Homo sapiens: one gene and its partner. The protein of the gene in region 1 binds, or shares a complex with, the protein of each later gene. Each region holds a gene or a part of one and is shown in the gene's direction. Other genes may lie near its edges. The genes, in order: GABBR2 and KCTD16.

Region 1 (3,915 bases):
AGCTTTGTTCCCACAGGCAATTTTAGGCCTTCCCATCTTATAGCACATTGGAAGCAGAAGCTGGAAATACAAACTTTGAAACTTGGCCTCTGGAAGTGACAAGCAATGAGGAACCAGCAAAAGCAGCCAAATCACCAATTGCAGCATCATTTGGGGCTCTTTAGTATTAGAGCTAAGGGCCTGTCAACCCAACTAGCTCCAAGGCCTGGCCAGCTTACAGTCCAGGACAGTGAGTGAGAGTTACATGGAATTTGTCAGCAGTTTGCCTAGCAGTTGCCTCCAGTAGAGTGTAAGCACCTTGAGAGTAAGTTATGAGTCCTTCATGTGTCCCCTGCACCGAACACAGGTTCTGCCAGTGAATAGGTTCTTGACAAGCATTTGTTGAATGAATGAAAGGTGAACAGGATCCTAACAGACAGAAGAATGCTCTGACAACCACAGGACCCACCTTGCCTAGGCAGATAGCCCTGCCCTGGGTGCTTGGACAGGACACCCTTTTCCCAGGTCACAGTTTATTCTTCCCTTTTTGTCCTGGACTTCTTGCCAGCATGATCTTGCCTTAAGACACAGACTTCAGCTGACATTATACAGGTCCAACTTTAACTTCAGAATGAGATCTCCAACACTGTAGTTCCATGCACACCTGTGAGGTGTCTCTTGGGAGGAATCTTTCTGGAAAGTGTGGGCAGCACTTCGTCTGTACCCATCTATCTCAGAACCCACCAGTGACCTAAATGAACCCCAAGGGCACACCCAGTTGGGATAAGGCTGCCCCCATGAGTTGATTCGCCTCCACCACAAAACAATGTGGTTGAACAGAAGCAGCAAGAATTCCAGCTTCCCCAGTTCTGGTTTTGTTTCCATGGGGAAGTTACCTGAACTCTGTACTCTTCCCTCTTCTTTATAATGGGAATAGCAGTATTTCTTTTGCCTATTGGGTGTCTGTTAAGCTCTGGGGTTTTTGTTTTTCGCTTTTTTGCACGTGAGTGGCCAGGCACTGGGAACACAAGAAGGCATAAGAACTCAGTCCCTTCTCTCAAGGAATGCGGTGTGAAAGTTGCACCCATGGAGAACTGTGCAAGAATGCAGCTGAGCCGAGCAGAGGAGCAGTCACCTGGGCACATTTGCCGCAAGCAGCCTTTTCAACAAAGTGACATGACAGTCATTAAGACCAGAAGGGTGTGGCAATGAGAAGGGAGTCAGAGGGCAGCTCCCTTTTCCCTTGCTGCTCCTCCATCACGTGCTAACCCACACCCAGCTCCATCTTGCCTCCAGCTTTTTCTGGCTTCATTTCTGAGTATTTACCTAGGGTTCTGCTTAGCAGAGGAAGGGTTCTCCTAGCAGAGAGTGAGCACAAACAAGGTGATATTTAAACTGGATCTTGAAGGAGACACAGTTCATCATGTCAGGAAGCAGAGAAAGAGTCTTCCAGACAGGGAAACAGCAGAAGAGCACCCAGGAGCAGGGTTTCCAGGGAAACTGGCTGCCAGAGGGCAGGGCTTACAGGTGGAAAGGATGGAAGATTCACCTGGAAAATTCTGATCCAAAGATGGAACTTAGGGGGCCCCAAATATCACATCAGTGTCCCTTTTTTTCCCTTCCTTGGCTTCCTAGTGTTGGAAAGATAACACTAGTTACCAAAGAAGCTGGAAGAGCCTGTGGGAATTGGCCCAGCAAGAAGAGATGCGGTCCTGGGCAAAGCAGAGGCAGACGGGAGAGAGGAAGGATGGAGCAGGCGAGAAGTCTTTCAGGGATGAAACTGAAAGCCCTGTGGAGGTTTGCAAGAGTAGAGAATGCGAACTATCTGGTTTGCAGCAAAGCCCTGATAGAAAGGCAAAGCTTTGTCCTTAGTAATACAGACAGTCCCCAACTTACCATTTTTCAAATTTACAATGGTGTGAAAGTGATACACATTCAGTACAGTATTCAGTAAATTGCATGAGATATTTAACACTTTTTTATAAAATAGGCCTTGTGTTAGATGATATGGCCCAACTGTAAGTGTTCTGAGCACATTTAAGGTAGGCGAGGCTCAGCTAGGATATTTGGTAGGTTAGGTGGATTAAATGCATTTTTCAACTTACGATATTTTCAACTTACAATGGGTTTATGGGAATGTAACCCCATCGTAAGTCAAGGAGCATCTTTTCTGCTAGGGTATTTATAATAACCACCAAATCCTGGCCCAAAGCTCGAGAAAATTCATCTCCCTTGTTTATTCAAGTCTCCCTGGTCATTCCCAGGGCAGTAGCTGGTACATATGGGCCCTCATTAAATACCTGCTGGATTGCTGAATGGTTAGATGATTGGATGGACAGATCTTGGATTCAGAGAAAAATATGCTCCTGTCATCAGCTTTTTTAGCCAAAGCAAGTCCAAGGAACTTTCTGGTAAGCGCCCAGCTACCCTTCACTAACACTCCTCCCTCTCCTTCTCTTCAGCATCCAGCGTCGGCTGTCCCTCCAGCTCCCCATCCTCCACCACGCCTACCTCCCATCCATCGGAGGCGTGGACGCCAGCTGTGTCAGCCCCTGCGTCAGCCCCACCGCCAGCCCCCGCCACAGACATGTGCCACCCTCCTTCCGAGTCATGGTCTCGGGCCTGTAAGGGTGGGAGGCCTGGGCCCGGGGCCTCCCCCGTGACAGAACCACACTGGGCAGAGGGGTCTGCTGCAGAAACACTGTCGGCTCTGGCTGCGGAGAAGCTGGGCACCATGGCTGGCCTCTCAGGACCACTCGGATGGCACTCAGGTGGACAGGACGGGGCAGGGGGAGACTTGGCACCTGACCTCGAGCCTTATTTGTGAAGTCCTTATTTCTTCACAAAGAAGAGGAACGGAAATGGGACGTCTTCCTTAACATCTGCAAACAAGGAGGCGCTGGGATATCAAACTTGCAAAAAAAAAAAAAAAAAAAAAAAAACAAAAAAACTAGACAAGGAGAGAGGCACTAGAACTCCAGCTGGAAGTCACGGAGTGGCTCGAGCAGCCTTGGGAAGAGGCAAGGAGCTTCTGAAGAAACTGCCTCTGCACACACATCACTGGCTGTGACCCCTCAGGCTAGCCCTTCTCCACTCTGGGGGAGGAGGTGGGAAGGGCCACCAGGCCCCCAGCTGCCAGGCCAGCTGACCCCAGCCTTCCTGGAACAGGGAGTCTGCAGGAGCGCAGACAGGCACAGCCCTGGAGCAGGCAGGCCGAGGGCTGCGGCACTGGAGCAGGCTGACTTACATGCTCCACATGGGACCTGTGTCACCCAATGAGATGTTTGTTACTCTGGTAAATGCCACACGTTAACACAATAACACCCATTCCTGGGACCGTGGGGATTTAGGGCACGTCACTGCAGACACGCTCTGCAGCATTCACCGACAGTCTGTCATGCACCCACCACGTTGGCCATGTCCTTGTGTTCCTATCGGATGCTCCCAGTAACCAGGGGGACCACCCGAGCTAATCATGGAATGTCTGTTCCCAGCAAACACGATAAAGAAAGATTGTGCACTTTAACCTCTCTCATCAGGGCCCAAGGGCTGGCTGGGATTTTTTTTTTTTTTTTCCCACTAACTTTGTTTCTGACCAAAGTGAATTGGAGGCACTCTGCTAAAAGACATCCCCGTAGACATAGGGGAGAGAGTTGCTGGCTGAGGGCTTCCCTTGGCTTCCAGAAGGCAGCCTTCCATCCAGACAAGCCAGTGAGCTCTCCCCTTGGGATCACTGGGGTGATCAGTCAGCAGATTGATTCTCATTCATAAGATCATTCCTCCCTTTAAATTGAGCCCCTAAGAGCACTGGCCTGGGAGTCAGACAGACCTGGGTTCAAGTCCTCAGTCCCCTGCCCACTCCCTACGTGACTTTGATCAGGTCACTAGTGTCTCTCTGAGCCTCAGTTTCCCCTCTGTAACTTGGGGTTGAACTAA
Region 2 (3,915 bases), on another chromosome or scaffold:
ATAGCGAAGGCTGTCAGCATGAAAGCTATCTCTGCTTGAGGGCAGAGAAAACTTAAGGATGTGTTAGGAGTGAGAATGTAGAGAGTGATCACATTATTTCAAAATTAAAATAGTCCTTTTGAGAATATACCCTTCAATATTTGGCTGTGCATGTGAAAGCAGGAAACAGAGGCGAAAACATATTTTATCAATTTCACAATTTACCTAACATACGTCTTGATTTGCTATATGCTTGAATATTACAAAGAACAGGATGGAGCATTCTTCCTTGCTCTTCCTCTAAGAGAAATCTGTTGCCGTATGCTGTTCAGCCTTCAGTCCGGGAGTGCCATCCCACAGTGTTTCAGCGGAGAGCTGCCAAGAGAGAATAATAACACTAGCGGTGTTATTTGCTGACACGAAGGCTAGGAATACACTTACAGCCTAGACTTGGCTTCTTGCCTCTTGTTAAGGCACCAAACAGCCGGGCTTACCGACAACTTCCCTGAGACATTCGCTTACTCTAGCACTATTTAAATCTCTTTGTAGAGTGTATTGCTTTATTTCCTTCAAGTCTTTTATCTTTTTAATCTCACCTCTCATTCGTTTTCATCCCTGAGACTAAAGAAACAAGAAGGAGTACAGATCTGGGGATGTTAACCTGAGGTCTATGAACCCCAACATGAATGGGCTTCAGGCCAATCTTGAACCAAACCCCTGATCTCTCAGAAGGTGAGGGAGGCCTAGACCATCTTGCTTTTCTGAGGTTCCATTTAGATTAAAAAGTAGATATGCCCAAATAGAGTTAGCAAAGCAAGTGTTTATTTTTAACTGCTTACTATAATAAACAAACTGTTTTAGCACACAACAATTAACAATATGATGCAATATAATTGTGCAAAACAGGATATTTACAGTGTTTATGAAAAATACCAATTCAAAATGTTTCAGGTGGTATGATCAAATCATGGGTTGCAAGATTAAGGTTGTCTGGTGAATGTTTTCCATTTTTCAATTCTCAGAGTGTGTCTCTGTGAATGTATGTGTAATCTCACTTCAAAAAGAAGTTTCATAGTCAAAATTTGAGGAATTCTGCTTATGTGAATCATCAACTACATGGCCCCCGCACCTGTTCCTCTTTTTACTCAGCCTTTCCTGAGAGGTTCTGCCTTGACAGTGAATGCAAACTTTTATGCTTGTGGATTCATTTCCTAGGTTTTATTAGATTCTCTAAGCAGTCCATTTTCCAAAAAAGGTTAAGAATCTACTTGTCTCAAAAGTAACCTAACCTATAAAACCCAGACCAATGAACAGAACTCCTCATTTTAAAAATTCAGAATATTCTTCTTTTATATTATAAAATCTTTTAACTCTGCAATTTAAAGTAATATTAATACTCTTTTTAAGAGTATTAATATTAATATTAATTCTTGGTGTGCTTTTTAAAAACATGTTTAGTAATCTTGAAATTTGTTGTTTCAAATTTCAAGAAAATGTCTTGCAATTTGTTGTTTCAAAAAAAATCTTGTTTCTTAAACTTGCCGCCTCTCTATTCCTATTCAAGAATATCTAAGGTTAAAATGAGGATGGTTATCCTGAAGAGTCAGTGGTCTAAAGCCCATCCTGTTACTCTGGAATCGTGTGACCCTGAGGAAGTGCTGAACCTCTCTGTTCCTCAGTTCTGCATCTCTAAGAAGAGATAGTTAATTTTCATTCCTCAAGTCCGTTTTAGCTCTAAAAGATTATAATTTTTCTTACTCTGTTTCTCCACCTACTGCCATACTGTCCCTGCAGTGTTTTCATACCTGAGCTCCAAAGCTATCGTCATGACGTTTTGACCTACTCTCTTAGAAATAAAACATTTGCTTACTTTACAACCAAAACCAGTACTTAATAGGTCTGAATTCAGATTTATTTTGTCTTTGACCTGATGTCAACGAAATATTTATTTTGTTGTCATGGTGAGCAGTGCATGCCAAGTAAACTTAGATCACTATAAAAACTTAAAAATAAAAGAAAATCTAAATGTTTTGGCCCTATTAAGTTGCCAGATACAGAGCTGCACTGATAGCTTAGGGCACTAGATGGCGATATAAGTGCATCACATAACAAACATCTTGCTTGGTCCAGCATTAAAATCCTAATGATTGAGGCCAGAACAGGTTAATGCATTAGTTAACGAAACAAAGTCAAATATAATCAGGTGTAGGAATGTTAGCTAACGCTCTGAATATGTTCAGTAACCCAATGCTTATTGAAAGAAAAGATTGTTAAAGTAGAAACTAATTTATCCTACTGTTGAGCGTATCTTCAAGCTAATTTTTTGGGCAAGAGTTGGCAATAAACACGTTTCTCATAAAATGTATATAATTCCTAAGTTCACCTCCATTTTTGTTTTTCACTTTTTAAAAATAGCAATTGTTTGGGATGGCGTGTGCCTCACATATATTATTCATTGACCAAGCACTATATTCTTATCAGGGATGTGAGCCCTAAGACACTGGTGTTTTAAAGGGGAAATGGCCGACTTACTGTAAGCTGTTGGCTGGGCCATTATTGACTGTCAGGCTCAACTGGAAGCACTTTGTTAGTGGATTAGGTTGCCCTGGAAATGCCTTCCTGAAACTCTAATGATGCACTTAAGGGAGCCCTCTGGAACAGGAGTAAAATGTCTTTTAGCAGCAGTGCCTTCCACCAGAGTCCTCTTGGGATGACTTGGGAGGGGCTGGGGGCACGTCCAAAGAGACGCGCAGTAAGGAAACAACCCCAGAAAAAGGTTGCAGGTATCAATTTCTTACAGGTGAGCTAAGATAATGACTTATGGATGTAAACTGTGGGCTTTCTGTGGGTGCCGGTGCTTCACGTCTTCATTTTGAAAGAGCATCATTAATTTCAGAGAGAGTGTTTATGTATCTACCTATTTACATATATATTCATATTTATTTATTTGCTAGGGGTTGTGGTGGCAGGCGGATGAAATAGAAAAGGAAAAAAAGGGAGAATTTGAGTGAATATGGTTTAAATCAAAGGATTAAAAAAAACACTGTGTAGTTTGAACACTGGGGTCATTTGGTGTGCGTGTCTGTGTTTTAAAACAAGCATTAGAGGGATATTTGCCCTTCAGCAGGAAGGAATTCCGTGAACGAGGAGGGGGGAGGGGGGAAGATCTGTAGATTTTTCAAATAAAAAGTCAGTTGTGTTTATCTCACAACTTACCTCTTGGGTAGGGGGCAGGGATTTGCTGTGGGATGGTGATGGAGGTAAAGACAAGGAAGAAGGAAAAGGCCCTTGGAAACTCCAGACTCCAGGACAGGACAGGGAGGGAAGTGGCTGCGCAGCACTGCGTCCCCGCCCCAAGCCCCGCGCGCCTGGCAATCGCGTGCCCACCGCCGGAGCGCGGCGTCCCCGTGCAGTCCTGGCAACCTGTCACCGAGGAGGACGTGACTCGGAGCTGCCTCCGCTTTCTCCAAGCCATATTCCTTTAAGATGATGTAATAGTCATTTCCCTGGATGGTTTCTTGCCTGCACTGCTGAAACAACAGCATCCGAACTGCACTGGGAACTGTGGAACCACCCAGCTCCGCCGCCAGAGAAGCCGGAGCCCCGGGCCCCCCGCCGGCATCTCTGCGCTGCGTTGGCCTCTGGCTCGCACCGGCTCCCACCTGGCTGGGAACATGGGAGTCCGTTTGCCCTTGCCGGCAGGTGGGGTGGCTACCTGGGACCCTAGCAGGGCACATCTCTCCATCTTTCTGCTTCTGGGCTTTCTGAAAAGCTTCTAAGTCCTGGTACCTCTTGCAACTCTCTTCTAAGGATCCTTTCCAAAGATTTCTTTTTCCATTTTTCTTTTCCCCTGGGGAAGCTTTGGTTGAATATTTTCTCTGCTTTACTTCTTCAACCCAACCTCCTCTCATCAGGGCTTAACTTTTTTTGCGACTT

The links.
Region 2: the proteins of GABBR2 (region 1) and KCTD16 are in contact, whole or in part, in a crystal structure (PDB 6M8R), measured with the Homo sapiens proteins. Residues at the interface, in NP_005449.5 of Homo sapiens: Ile882, Asn883, Ile888 (codon at 2,443), Gln889 (codon at 2,446), Arg891 (codon at 2,452), Leu892 (codon at 2,455), Ser893 (codon at 2,458), Leu894 (codon at 2,461), Gln895 (codon at 2,464), Leu896 (codon at 2,467), Pro897 (codon at 2,470), Ile898 (codon at 2,473), Leu899 (codon at 2,476); in NP_001357415.1 of Homo sapiens: Asn30, Gly32, Gly33, Gln34, Val35, Tyr36, Asp64, Leu65, Ala66, Lys67, Asp68, Ser69, Arg72, Phe74, Gly79, Phe80, Arg83.

What each region holds. Positions count from the first base shown.
Region 1 is NC_000009.12:98,289,276-98,293,190, reverse strand, and holds part of GABBR2 (gamma-aminobutyric acid type B receptor subunit 2 precursor), read left to right. Parts: intron 1-2,441; coding exon 2,442-2,607; 3' UTR 2,608-3,915. UniProt on the Homo sapiens protein: Component of a heterodimeric G-protein coupled receptor for GABA, formed by GABBR1 and GABBR2. Within the heterodimeric GABA receptor, only GABBR1 seems to bind agonists, while GABBR2 mediates coupling to G proteins.
Region 2 is NC_000005.10:144,201,869-144,205,783, forward strand, and holds part of KCTD16 (BTB/POZ domain-containing protein KCTD16), read left to right. Parts: intron 1-3,522; exon of another isoform or gene 3,523-3,915. UniProt on the Homo sapiens protein: Auxiliary subunit of GABA-B receptors that determine the pharmacology and kinetics of the receptor response. Increases agonist potency and markedly alter the G-protein signaling of the receptors by accelerating onset and promoting desensitization.